Linked DNA regions of Homo sapiens: region 2 is linked to region 1. Evidence: fine-mapped expression QTL. Tissue or cell type: skeletal muscle. Region 1 holds a variant in brackets; the other region holds the start of a gene. All regions are shown on one strand. Distances are between the middles of the regions.

Evidence for each region. PIP is the estimated chance that this variant, and not a neighbour inherited with it, causes the effect.
Region 2: CD52 starts here. The variant in region 1 is fine-mapped to the expression of CD52 in skeletal muscle (FUSION, PIP 0.95).

What each region holds. Positions count from the first base shown.
Region 1 is chr1:26,266,063-26,268,744 of GRCh38, reverse strand. CEP85 (centrosomal protein 85) reads right to left here. Exons shown (of 14, transcript NM_001319944.2): 8 at 110-262. Among named protein-coding and RNA genes, the nearest start is that of SH3BGRL3, 13 kb to the left of the region's middle. The variant T/C (reference allele first, on the strand shown) is at 1,472.
Region 2 is chr1:26,316,697-26,319,378 of GRCh38, reverse strand. It overlaps CD52 (CD52 molecule), which reads right to left and starts at 1,421. Exons shown (of 2, transcript NM_001803.3): 1 at 1,308-1,421. The coding sequence starts at 1,361. It also overlaps a transcript of UBXN11 not described here. RefSeq lists enhancers at 415-514, 1-641, 1,015-1,164, 1,295-1,364 and a silencer at 1,439-1,631.

The DNA of each region.
Region 1 (2,682 bases):
ATTCTCCTTTCAGCAAGTCACAGGATAACTGCATACAGCAGATGATGAAAAAGTTCCCCTGCCTGGCCACTCCCTGATCACCCCAGGCATGCCAAGACATTGCTGCTACCTGCTGGCTCTGCTTCTGATGGTCTTCCAGTGTGGGCAGGTCAGCCAGGTAGCGCTCCAAGGTCTCAATACGCTGCTGCTTCTCCCGGTTCTGCTCTGATTCCTTCTGGCATTTCTTTTTCAAATTATTGATATGTTTATCACGACCTTTGACCTAGGAAAATAAATGTCAAGTCTGTCTCCACCATTCACTCCACTATGACCCTGCTGGAGTGCAGTGCTGTGATCTCAGCTGACTGCAGCCTCCACCTCCCAGGCTCAAGTGATCCTCCTACCTCAGCCCCTGGAGTAGCTGGGACTGCAGGCACACACTACCACGGCAGGCTAATTTTTCTATGTTTTGTAGAGACAGAGTTTCGCCATGTTTTTCAGGCTGGTCTCCAATTCCTGGCCTCAAGCCATCCGCCCACCTTGGCCTCCCAAACTGCTGGGATTACAGGCATGGGCCACCACACCCAGCCACATCAACTTTTTTTGAAGCAACCCTTGAGGCTGTGAATGTTGTTCTACTGCAATGAAGGTAGGAAGCTAAACAAATTTTGCCATTTAGGATTTGAGTATAAAACTAAAGAATTAATGAACTTTCAAATCAAGGACGGAGAAAGTCTTCTAGGGCAGTTTTTAAAAACTGGCAGCATTTCTGTTGTAAAATACAGAATTTGTCTGGTCTCTGTACCTGGTTCCTGGGAGGCCTGTAACCTCTAAGCCCTTGGAATTTCCTGAATTGGACAGGAGTGGGCCAGATCCCATCATGAGTAAATTTATGCCAATACTATGACTCAGAATGGATGCAGATCACCAGAAAAATCAACTGCTTTAAGCCTAATCTACTATGGGGAAGGCAGAGGGACGGGTGATTGAGTTCAATCATGCCTACATAGATAAAACTCCAACTAAAAACTCTGGACACAGCAGCTCACTGGAGCTTCCTGGTAGGTAAACACATAAATGTGCTGTGTTTACATGCTCTTATTCCACAAGGAGAGGGCATGGAAGCTCTGCTCTCAGGATGCTCCTGGACCTCACCCTATGTCATTTGGCTGGTCCTGAATTGTATCCCACCCCCCTTTTTTTGAGACAGTTTCGCTCTTGTTGCCCAGGCTGGAATGCAATGGTGCAATCTTGGCTCACTGCGACCTTCGCCTCCTGGGTTCAAGAGAGTCTCCTGCCTCAGTTTCCCGAGTAGCTGGGATTACAGGCACCCGCCACCATGCCCAGCTAATTTTTCTATTTTTAGTACAGATGGGATTTCACCATGTTGGCCAGGCTGGTCTCGAACCCCTGACTTCAGGTGATCCACCTGCCTCGGCCTCCCAAAGTGCTGGGATTACAGGCATGAGCCACTGCACCCAGCCCTGAATTG[T/C]ATCCCTTATAATAAAACTGTAATAATAAGTATAGCACTTTCCTAAGTTCTGTGAGTAATTCTGGGAATTATTAAACCTGAAGGGGTCATAGAAGCCTACAGATCTGCAGCCAGTTGGTCAGAAATACGGGTGGCCTGAAGACCCCAAAATTTGCTGTTGGCATCTGAAGTAAACACAGTTTTGCTGAGAACTGTGCCCTTAAACCTGTGGAGTCTGACACTAACTCCAGATGGTGTGCATCTGAATTGGACTGCAGAAGTATACATAACTTTCTGATAAGACATATAACCAGTTTGGTCAGAAAGGTAATATATTCTTCCCTAAATACCACACATGATATAAAGCCATGCAATCAACTGGAAAGGCTAATGAGACTTGAGAGAAAGAGCTATGTCTGTTTGCTAATAATCATATACTAAACACACGGCAGAAGGCCTGGCACAGAGCAGGTATTCAATAAAGATTTGAACAGAGGCTTTTTCTTCACCATTATGGTGCTTTGTTTTATTTTGTTTGCTTATGAACAAGGAAGGTGAGGAAAGCAAGAGAAAACAGAAAAAGTGATGCAGATCTACTAAATGTCAAAGAGGCGGCAAAGGCCTAATTTAATCCAAAGATATAACAGTACAAAGAAAGATCCCTGAAAATCAGCCAAAAGCTTATCCTAGGTCCAATCTGTACTCTTAAATTTCTGAACCAGTGATTTTCACATTTCAGTATGTATCAGAATCACCTGGGAAGCTTACTGAAAATGGTAAACTGACCATAAATGTTTATCTCTTCTCCCTTCCAAAAACATCTTTAAAATGACAGAAAAGAAATAAAGTATTAACTGAGAAACAACAGGGGAGGAAACAAAAGTCTAGGAAAGATTTATTATTTTTTTGAGACAGGGTCTTGCTCTGTCACCCATGCTGAAGTGCAGTGACACGGACACAGCCCACTGCAGCCTTGACCTCCTGGGCTCAAGTGATGCTCCCACCTCAGCCTCTCAGTAGCTTAGACTACAAGCGTGTACCACCATGCCCAGCTAATATTTAAAGAAAAAACAATTTTTTTTTTTTAGATGGAGTTTCATTCTTGTTGCCCAGGCTGGAGTGCAGTGGTGTGATCTCAGCTCACTGGAACCTCCACCTCCCGGGTTCAAGCGATTCTCCTGCCTCAGCCTCCCGAGGAGCTGGGGTTACAGGTGTCCACCACCACGCCCAGC
Region 2 (2,682 bases), 51 kb before region 1:
ACGCCATTCTCCTGCCTCAGCCTCCCGAGTAGCTGGGACTACAGGCGCCCGCCACCACGCCACGCCCGGCTAATTTCTTTTTGTATTTATGGTAGAGACGAGGTTTCAATGTGTTAGCCAGGATGGTCTCGATCTCCTGACCTCATGATCCACCCGCCTCAGCCTCCCAAAGTGCTGGGATTACAGACGCGAGCCAGCGCGCCCGGCTCGCCCAGCTAATTTTTGTATTTTTAGTAGAGACGGGATTTTGTCATGTTGGCCAGGCTGGTCTTGAACTCCTGACCTCAGGTGATCCGCCTGCCTCGGCCTCCCAAAGTGCTGGGATTATAGGCGTGAGCCACCGTGCCCGGTCACAGAACCTTTCTTTTCACCTTTCCCCAGCGACCAGCCCTTCTGGCATAGAGGGAGACAGGGGAGCCCTGGCCCTTGACCTTCCTAGCCTGGCAAAGGGCTTAGCTTCCCTGAGCCTCAGTTTCATCTTCTGAGTGGGGAGAAGTTCATCACAGTTGTGAAGGTCACATGAGCCAGGGCTGAGTGAGAAAGCACTTGGCAAAGCGTGGGTGGCTGGATGTGGGGTGGGGAAGTGGCCAGATGGTGATCGAGCTGTCCTTAATGCTTGATGGAGCTGCAACTAGAACTGTTCTTGATGGAGATTAAGCTGGTTTTGATGGTGATCAAGCTGTTCTTGATCAAGAACTTGATGGCTCCGGTCTGCTGTACTGACTCCCCTCTGGGCACCTGGGATGCTACCAAAGCTGCCTCCTGGAATAGCAGTCGCTTTTGAGACTCCAGTTGTTTCTGAAATGGGAGAGTCCTGTCTTCTTTGCATTCCTGAACATCCAGGCTTCTCTCTGGCAGGGGAGTGGGGGTTAGAGTGTCCCCTGTCACCTCCATAACCACAGCAGGCTCCACTTGGACATCTCCTGGCCTCTCCCCAAAGGACCATCTCCCCAGACTCCCTGTGGGCCGATGCCTTCCTCACTCAGGGTTGTCTTCCCAAGTCTCTTAGTTCTCTATTATTCCACAACACCCCTTGGGTGCCCCAACGCGCCTAGCACCCTGTAAGTGCTCCCCAGCTGTGGATACAGGTTTCTCTCAGGGCAGCCCGCAAGCAGTGCAGCCCCAGCCAGAAGAGCTGGAAGGCTGGGCGGCCAGGCCCGCTGTGTCCCCAGTTTTCCTGTTGGAGTCCATCTGCTGTGCTCTCAGGAGAGAAGGCTGGGTCTCTGGGAGCTCACATCCTGTATGCCCTCCCTCCATGCCAAGCAACTTTGGGGAGTCCTGGCAGTGGTGCCAGGCGTTGCTCTTACCTGTACCATAACCAGGAGGCTGATGGTGAGTAGGAGGAAGAGGAAGCGCTTCATTTTGGTAGGATCTTCGTGGCTGTCTTGGTAGCAGCTTTTTAGGTGATCTCAGGGCTGTCTGGAGGCTTCTTTTGGTTTAGCTGCTTTTGAACCAGGAGGCAGAGGAGGCGGGGTGAGGTAGGGAGAGGAAGGAGGGCTTACAAGGTGGAGGAGGGGTGTGGCTTCCTTTCTGCAGATCTGGGGGTGGATAATACCAGGCTCTAGGTTCTAAGGCCCTGGCTGGGGGAGCAGGCTAGATCGTACAAGATAGGAGAGAGGTCAATCCAGAGGCAACGGTGGGAGTAAGTAGGGCCCAAGGCCTGGAATCATGCATCCTGCAGGCTGAATCCTGGTTTAATCACTGACCAGCTCTGAGACCCTGGGCCAGAAACTCTACCTCTCTGACCCTTTAACAAAAGAACTGCCGGATTACATGTAATAATAACCAATTTAAAAAGAGCCAGAACATAGCAGATATTCCGTAAATGAGTTTGTTGTTTAAAGAAGATTGGGGCAGGGTATAGGAGCTGAAGGAGAAGGGCTGGGATAGATTTATGTTTCAAGGGAAGGTTGTAGATGGGCTGCAGGTTCTGAATGAAAGCTTGGGAAATGTTTAGATTGTGGAAGGGTTGGTGGATTTCTGTGAAGGTGCTGGAGGTGAGGAATCGGGAAGCCTGGTTTCAGTTGGGCTTTCCCTCTCTAGGCCTCAGTTCCTCATTTCAAGGAACTGGGAAGACTGAAATAGATTATTTCTGAAGTTTGTTAAAACCTAGTGTTTTGTTTTGTTGTTGTTGGTTTTTTTGTTTTTTTTTTTAAACAGAGTTTTGCTCTGTGCACTGGCATGATCTCGGCTTACTGCAACCTCCACCTCCTGGGTTCAAGCAATTATCCTGCCTTGGCCTCCCGCATAGCTGGGACTACAGGTGTGTGCCACCATGCCTGGCTAATTTTTTGTATTTTTTTTTTTTTTTTAGCGGAGACTGGGTTTCACCATGTTGGCTAGGCTAGTCTCGAATGCCTGATCTCAAGTGATCCGCCTGCCTCGGCCTCCCAAAGTGCTGGGATTACAGGCATGAGCCACCGCGCCCAGCCAAGACCTAGAATTTTGTGATTTTGGTAGAGAAAGTAGCAAGCAGATGGGTTGTTTGTATTAGCTGAGGATGAATGGGAGGGGAGCGAGGGAAGGGACAAGTGGGTGACTAAGCTACAGTGGAAGGGGACTGGGGTGAGAGAGTGGCTGTGAGGGCCCAGGGAGGGGTGGGGGGATGAGAGGAATCCCACAGCTGCCTGGATAGTGCTCCATGCTTTATGCATTCCCTCACTTGATACCCTCTGTGGTGCC